Linked DNA regions of Homo sapiens: region 1 is reported to be linked to region 2. Evidence: microRNA targets listed by miRTarBase, many of them from high-throughput screens and not tested one by one. Region 2 holds a microRNA gene; the other region holds the end of a gene's coding sequence.

What was found. Region 2 holds the annotated microRNA hsa-miR-520d-3p (AAAGUGCUUCUCUUUGGUGGGU, at 773-794, opposite strand). A microRNA usually pairs through its seed, bases 2 to 8, with sites in the 3' UTR of a target mRNA and lowers its output. Matches are read on the target gene's strand: a 7mer-m8 pairs with bases 2 to 8, a 7mer-A1 pairs with bases 2 to 7 and ends in A, and an 8mer does both.
Region 1: miRTarBase lists SLC35H1 as a target of hsa-miR-520d-3p. The part of its 3' UTR that is shown has no 7-base or 8-base seed match.

Annotation. Positions count from the first base shown.
Region 1 is chr20:46,347,968-46,351,777 of GRCh38, reverse strand. SLC35H1 (solute carrier family 35 member H1) reads left to right here. Exons shown (of 10, transcript NM_015945.12): 9 at 888-1,017; 10 at 1,254-3,810. The coding sequence ends at 1,384. Among named protein-coding and RNA genes, the nearest start is that of SLC35H1, 15 kb to the left of the region's middle. RefSeq lists enhancers at 144-203, 214-353, 1-498 and a silencer at 614-908.
Region 2 is chr19:53,716,957-53,720,942 of GRCh38, reverse strand. It overlaps MIR520D (microRNA 520d), which reads right to left and starts at 847; the gene lies at 761-847. It also overlaps the pseudogene RNU6-803P.

The DNA.
Region 1 (3,810 bases), not on the chromosome of region 2:
GCCAGCTCTGACTCTGCTAGGCCTGGAATGCATTCACATTTTACCTTGACTGCCAACTCTGGCACTGGGCAGTGGCCTGGAGCCACAGGTTGAACAGCCCCTATCCAGACTCATCAGGAAAGAGTTCCGTGATTGACTGGCGGTGTCCTCCAAGGCCATGGCCAGGGCTAGTGAGACCCTGAGAAAGCACCCCTGTGGCCAGCCTTGCTGTACCTCTGCCTCGCAGGCCTGTCCTTCCCTCTCATACCTCTTCTCACTTCTCCTTCTCCCTCCCACACATTTCAACAGTCCTCCCTGTTCAGGGGCAGGGAGGGACTTTTCTCTTTGGCCAGGCACACACCAGTGTTGAAGCAGTGTTGCCTAAACCCAGAAATGCAGGCCTGTCCAAGGGTCTTCTGGTGGCCAGCCGCATGCTGAGGCATGGCTGTGGTTCTTGGATGAACGGCCTTGCCAGTCCTGTTTGGAGTCTCTGTTTATAGAGAGCCCCGGGACCAGTTGTGTCTTCAGTCCGGGGTAACACAGCATTCTCACACATAGGCTCAGGGCTCTCTTCTGTGGCTGCCTTCTGGGGCAGCCGTCCTTTATCCTTGTGGATAAGGCGCGATCTGGACACCCTGGTCCCCAGCCTGGGATCTGGTTTGCCTCTTTTATTCCTGACAGAATTCCATGACAAGCACCTCCTTTGTTGCATCTCACAAAAGGAGGCTGGCGGGACAGCGCCGCAAGCCGGCCGGGTCCCCTGACCTCTCTGCCTGCCTGGGCCCAGGATTTCAGTAAGATCTTGATCTGCCCACCTGAGTGTACCTAGTGCCCCCACCTTCCACCCTCCTGGTCAAGCAGCCAAATCTGCCTGTTGATCATGCTCCCTCCTGCTTCTCTGCCCCCAGGAAGTCTGCACTTTGCTGTTGGCAGCTCATCTGCTGGGCGATCAGATCAGCCTCCTGAACTGGCTGGGCTTCGCCCTCTGCCTCTCGGGAATATCCCTCCACGTTGCCCTCAAAGCCCTGCATTCCAGAGGTAACCCAGAGTCCCTTCCAGAAGCCTCTGTTTTCTGTTCTTCTCCCTGTGACTCTTAGTGATTCTGATGCAGGAAGTGTGCCCGGTGGCTCTGCTGCCGTCACTCCTCTAGGAAGATGTGGGGGTCATCTCCAGAGTGGGTGGGTGGGGCCTGGGTGACTCAGCACACATGCAAATCAGAGCAAACCAAGAAAACCACGACTGGGCCTGTAACTGTGGTCTCTCTCTATCCCAAGGTGATGGTGGCCCCAAGGCCTTGAAGGGGCTGGGCTCCAGCCCCGACCTGGAGCTGCTGCTCCGGAGCAGCCAGCGGGAGGAAGGTGACAATGAGGAGGAGGAGTACTTTGTGGCCCAGGGGCAGCAGTGACCAGCCAGGGCAAATGGCTTAGAAGCAGGCCACTCCCCAGCCTGCTGCCAGCACTCACTGTGCTCAAGCCGCCAGGGCTCATCATGGTAGCTGGGAGCTGTGGACGGGAGTCACCAGGTGGTGGGGCCAAGCCAGGGACTCATGACTTTTGCCCCTCCCTTCAGAGCCTGGTCACACAAGGGGCGAGCACCAGGCCAGCCTGGGACTGGCCAGAGCTGGGCCCAAGCTGCGCTGGAATCGCAGCAGGAGAGGGGAGTGGGCTGGTTCTTCCCACCACTTCCCAGGCTCTGACAGCCGAGACTCATTTCCAAGGCACAGCAGCTTTCTAAAGGGACTGAGTTTGGACTGGGTTTTGGACCTCCAGGGGCTGGAGCTTCATCACCTGGGCAGTGTCTTTTCTCAGAGAGCAGGTTTCTTTATAGTTTGGAAATAAATGGTTCACGGTCCACTGGCCGCCTTGTGTTGCTGGAGACGTGGGGGCAGGGAGGGGACAGTGTGGGCCTGGCCTCTCCTTTCCTTTCCCTGCCTGGAGCCTTCTTCAAATGTCTGGTCTTAAGCCAGGCCTCCTTCATTTTCTCGCTCCTGTTAGAACACCAGTCCCCTCCCCAGTGGGGCCCCACTGCACCTGCTGGCAGGAAATAAATGAATGTTTACTGAGTACTGCATTCTGGAGACCTTACATGTTTTCACAGCCTAGTTTGAATACTGGCTTTGTCACTAGCTGTGTGACCCTAAGCAAATGACCTAACCTGTCTGTGCCGTAGTTTTTTAATCTGTGAAATGGGGATAATGTCTATCTCAGAGTCCTTTTGAAGATTGAGTCATTATTAGTAACAGATTAAATGTTATATAAGCATTTCTTTTAATCCTTTTAACAACTAAGAGACTAAAGCCTGGAAAAGATAAAGAGCTGCTTAAGTGGCCGGGCTGAGGTTCACATCCAAGTCTGTGTACGTCTGTGTGTGCACGTGCTGCACGTGACATCCACACAGCCTCCTGGAACTTCATGGGCCCCTGGGGCTTGGGCTTTCCACTCCTCCTTGGCCAAGTCCCACGTCTTCTCTAGACTGCAGGCCTCTCTCAAATGAGGAAGGGAGGGGGCAAGACCCCAGCTCTGATGTGCTGTGGACTGAGTCTACTCCTGTAAACTGGTTCCCGGGCCATGGGAGACCCCCCCGGCCCTTGGGGACAAAGCTTTCCAGGCGAAGTGCTCCTAGGCACTCACAGCAGGTGGCGCCATTGCACCACACTGGCTCCCAGAGCCCAGCTGCCCTGCCACGGCTATCCAGACACCGGCAGAAAAGGGGTGCTTGGAAGAGGACAGTGGGTATCCATGGGTGGGGACAAGGATAGGGCTTGTTCTAAAATTGTTTCCATCAGGTTGGAGTCACTAAAGCTCGTTCGGTTAAGCCCAGGAGAACTTTAATACTTTAAAAATGGGTCTGCAAACTTCCTGTAAAGGGCCAGATAGTAAATATTTGGGGTTTGGGGACCATATGGCGTCTGTTGCAGCTACTCTGCCATCGTAGCACAAAAGCAGCCATAGATGACACAGACCCAGGGTGTGGCTGTCCCAGTGAAACCCCATTTACAAAAGTAGGATCCAGCTTGCTGGCTGAAGTTTACCAGCAGGAGAACCCTCAAGAATTCTCGAGTCCAACTTCCACTTCTGCAGCAGGAGACTGAAGCCAGGAGGGGGCGGTGACTAGCCCGAGGCCCTCAGAGCCTCCGTGCTCAGGAGTCAGACCGAGATCTGCCTCTAATTCAGATTCCCAGCACAGACTCAGCAGGCGGAGGTGGAGCACCAAGGGCGCTTGGAAGCGGCCTCTTATCTGGCTCCTGCACCTCTGCCCCCCTTGGATTCCGCAAGCTCAGAGGCCAAGATTAAAGGAGGCTCGTGCTCCAGCTGGATGATGTGGGAAGAGCCAGCCAAGGAGGGGGGCCAGGGCCTCCTCCGTCTTAGAGGCTGCTTGGGATGCAGGCTGCTTGGGCGGCAGGGGGAGTCTGCCAGAGCCCCGCTGGCTCAGGTGGATGAGAGCTTCCTGTCTGCTCCCCCACTGCCCGCCTCCCAGCACAGGGAGCAAGCGTTGCTGTCTGGTGCAGTAATTACAAGGTGCAGAGCGGGGGCCCTTACCTCGCACATGTTGGGTTCAATGACAGCCCTTCATTTAGCAGCAATTACCAGCTGAACCTAAAGGAGGGCTCCCTCTCCTCCCCCACCCAGCCCACCCAATCGCCTGGCCTCCCAGGCCAGACAGCGTCCACCTCGGCATTGAGCCCTAGAACCACCCATGCTGTCTGCAGCCATTGCATCTCAGGGCTGCAGCATCACCATGGCAACGCGGTGCTTGCACAGGTTGAGGGGAAGCTGAGGATGTGACTTGTCTCTCCAAGGCTGTGGTGTCTGTCCCCACACAGCCCCAGCT
Region 2 (3,986 bases):
CCTCCTGGGTTCAAGCCATTCTCAAGCCTTAGCCTCCCGGGTAGCTGGGACTACAGGCACCCACCACCACGCCTCGCTAATTTTTTGTATTTTTAAATAGAGATGGGGTTTCACCGTGTTAGCCAGGATGGTCTCGATCTCCTGACCTCGTGATCCACCCGCCTCGGCCTTTCAAAGTGGTGGGATTACAGGCGTGAGCCACAGCGCCCAGCTTTTTTTTTTTTTTTTTTTTTTCAGACGGAATCTCACTCTGTCATCCTGGCTGGATGCTGTGGCACAATCTCGGCTCACTGCAGCCTCTGCCTCCCGGGTTCAAGCAATTCTCCTGCCTCAGCCTCCTAAGTAGCTGGGATTACAGGTGCCCACCACCACACTGGGCTAATTTTTGTTGTTATTGTATTTTTAGTAGAGACGGATTTTCACCACGTTGGTCAGACTGGTCTCAAACTCCTGACCTGAGATGATCTACCTGCATCGGCCTCCCAAAGTGCTGGGATTACAGGCATGAGCCACCATGCCCGGCTTTATTTTGTATTTTTATTCATTTGTTTATTTTTTGAGACAGAATTTCCCTGTGTTGCCCAGGCTGACCATTTGAAGCCAAGAGATATATTGGACATGTCACTGCACTCCAGCATGAGCAACACAGAGCCTTAGAATAAAAAAGCAAAACCAAAACAGAACCCCACCATCGTCCAAGTGTGATAAGCATGCTCTGCAAATGTATTACCGAAATCAGCATCAACTTCAACGTTGCTTTTCTCAAACCGTAACCCACCAAAGAGAAGCACTTTCTTTTCTTTTAGACAACAGAAAGGGCTTCCCTTTGTAGACTCACAGCTTGAGATCTTCTTGCTCCGGCACTCTGGGTTTCTTGTTGAAATTTTCCTTGACCTGGTCAAAATGGACACAAAAATAAAGATGCATTTATTGGTCCTGTTTGCATATTTTCTGGAATCTAGAACATAAACCGATACAAAGACCATCTCCAGTTCCTTGCTTCAAACGTTCAGCAGGTTAGCCTTGTTCATCGAGGGACAACTGTCCTGGGTTTTGTCTTCAAAGAGAAAAAGCAACGCCTACTACATATACCTTATATTCTCAGGAGTTAGACACCAGCCTGGGAAACATGGTAAAACCTCATCTGTAAAAATACAAAAGTTAGCCAGGTATAGAGGTGCATGCCTGTAGACACTAATTCAGGAGGCTGAGGTGGGAGGTTGAGGTTGCCGGGAGCCGAGATCACACCACTGCACTCCAGCATAGGTGACAGGGCCAGATCTTGTCTCAAAAACAAACGAACGAACAAACAAAAAATGCACACACCAACAAAAAAATGCCCAAAGTGATATAAGAGTATTCTCAGGGTGTAAAAGAGTCTTTTGTGTGTACATGATATTATATATATAAGAATATATGAAGGCCAGCCGCGGTGGCTGTCTGCAATCCCAGTACTTTGGAAAGCCAAGGTGGGCAGATCACCTGAAGTCGGGAGTTTGAGACCAGCCTGACCAACATGGAGAAATCCCGTCTACTAAAATACAACAAATTAGCTAGCCCTGGAAGTGTATGCCTGTAATCCCAGCTACTCAGGAGGCTGAGGTAGGAGAGTCGCTTTAACCCAAGAGGTGGACATCGCAGGGAGCCCAGATCACACCATTGCACTTCAGCCTATGCGACAAGAGCAAAACTCAGTCGCAAAAACATAAAAAATAATAATAATAAAAGAAACTTCCATATATTGTATGCTCACAGGAAGAATACTTCCTACACACAAGTGCTAGCTTTGGCAGCACGCATGAAAAAATTGGAATGACAAAGATTACCATGGGCCCTGCGCAAAGGTGACACTCAAATTCATGATGATCTCATATTTATCTATTTTTATTTTTTAACGTTTAATGTTTATTTAATAGTTTTATTTATTTATTTAGAGACAGAGTTTCACTCGTTGCCCAGGCTGGAATACAATGGCACAATCTCGGCTCACCACAACCTCCGCCCCCTGGGGTTCAAGTGATTCTCTTGCCTCAACCTCCCGAGCAGCTGGGATTACAGGCATGCGCCACCATGCCCGGCTAATTTTGTATTTTTAGTAGAGATGGGGTTTCTACGTGTTGGTTAGGCTGGTCTTGAACTCCCGACCTCAGGTGATCCGCCACCTCGGCCTCCCAAAGTTCTGGGATTACAGGCATGAGTCACTGTGCTCGGCCTATTTATTTAATTTTTGAAACAGAATCTCACTCTGTCACCCAGGATGGAGTACAATGGTGTGATTTCGTCTCACTGCAATCTCCTTTTCCCAGGTTCAAGAGATTCTCTTGCCGTGGCCTCCCAAGTAGCTGAGATTACAGGTGTCCACCACTGTTCCCAGCCATTTTTCCTAATTTTAGTATAGACGAGGTTTTGCCTTGTTTGCCCAGCTAGTCTTGGACTCCTGACCTGAGGAGATCCGCCTGTCCTGGCCTCTCAAAGTGCTGGGATTACAGGAGTGGACCACCGTGTCTGGCCTATTTTTTATGTTTTTGAGATGGAGTCTCACTCTTTTTGCCGAGGCTTGAGTGCAGTGGCGTGATCTCAGCTCATTGAAAGATCAGCCTTCCAGCTTCAAGCGACTCTCCTGCCTCAGCCTCCAGAGTAGCTGGGATTACAAGCATATACCACCACCATGCTGGGCTAATTTTGTATTTTTAGTAGAGATGGGGCTGCACCATGTTGGCCAGGCTGGAATCAAATTCCCGACCTCAGGTGATCCTCCTGTCTCAGCCTCCCAAAGTGCTGGAATTACAGGCGTGGGCCACTGTACTCTGCCTGGTGCCATTATTAAAACTAGGAAAAAAGAAAGATGCCCACACCTAAACAGCAAATCATTTGTTGTTCAAGTATGTCTCAAATGCAGTCTTCATCTAAAATACTAATTTGACTGGCGGCTAGGTGTGAACCAAAGAACGGTCCTTTCTTTCCTCTTGCCTGTGCATGGTTAATATTCACATGTAGTCCCAGCTACTAAGGACTGGGGAGAGGTGGAGGCAAAAGGACCTAAGCCCATTTTAGCCTGGGCAGCATAGTGAGACCCCTGTCTCGTTGCACATATGACCTGGTCGTGCAGCCAAGAGTTCAGCTGCATTTACCCAGTGAAAACTCAAAGCCATGCACTCCACCTCCGTGCCCCAGTGAAAACTCAAAGCCATGCACTCCACCTCCGTGCTCTTGCTAAGCAGGGCACATCCCATCTGCAAGGGACAATGAGGTCCCCCACCCCCTTATTTATTTATTTATTTTTTTGAGACAGAGTCTTGCTCTGTCGCCCAGGCTGGAGTGCAGTGGTGCCATCTCGGCTCACTGCAAGCTCCGCCTCCCGGGTTCACACCATTCTCCTGCCTCAGCCTCCCGAGTAGCTGGGACTACAGGCACCCGCCACCACGCCTGGCTAATTTTTTGTATTTTTAGTAGAGACAGGGTTTCACCATGTTAGCCAGGATGGTCTCGATCTCCTGACCTCGTGATCCACCCGCCTCGGCCTCCCAAAGTGCTGGGATTACAGGCGTCAGCCACCACACCCAGCCTGAGGTCCCTTTTAAATCTGCCCGACCCCAAGTGAGGTTCTATAAACCAGCGCCAGTATCATTTCCATGGAGTAGAAGGTGTTGATGGCTCGGTGCAGTGGCTCACGCCTGCATTTTCAGCACTTTGGGAGTCTGAGGCGGGAGGATCACTTGAGGTCAGGGGCTTGAGACTAGCCTGGCCAACGTGGTGAAACCCATTTTCTACTAAAAAAAAACAAAAAGGGCATGATGGTGACACATATAATTCCAACTACTTGGGAGGCTGAGGCAGGAAAATTGCTTGAACCCAAGAGGCAAAGGCTGCCACTGCACTCCAGCCTGAGAGACAGCGAGACTCAAAAATAAATAAATAAGAAAAATGAAAATTATAGCCAGTCATGGTGTCAGACACCTATAATCCCAGCTACTCAGGAAGTTGAG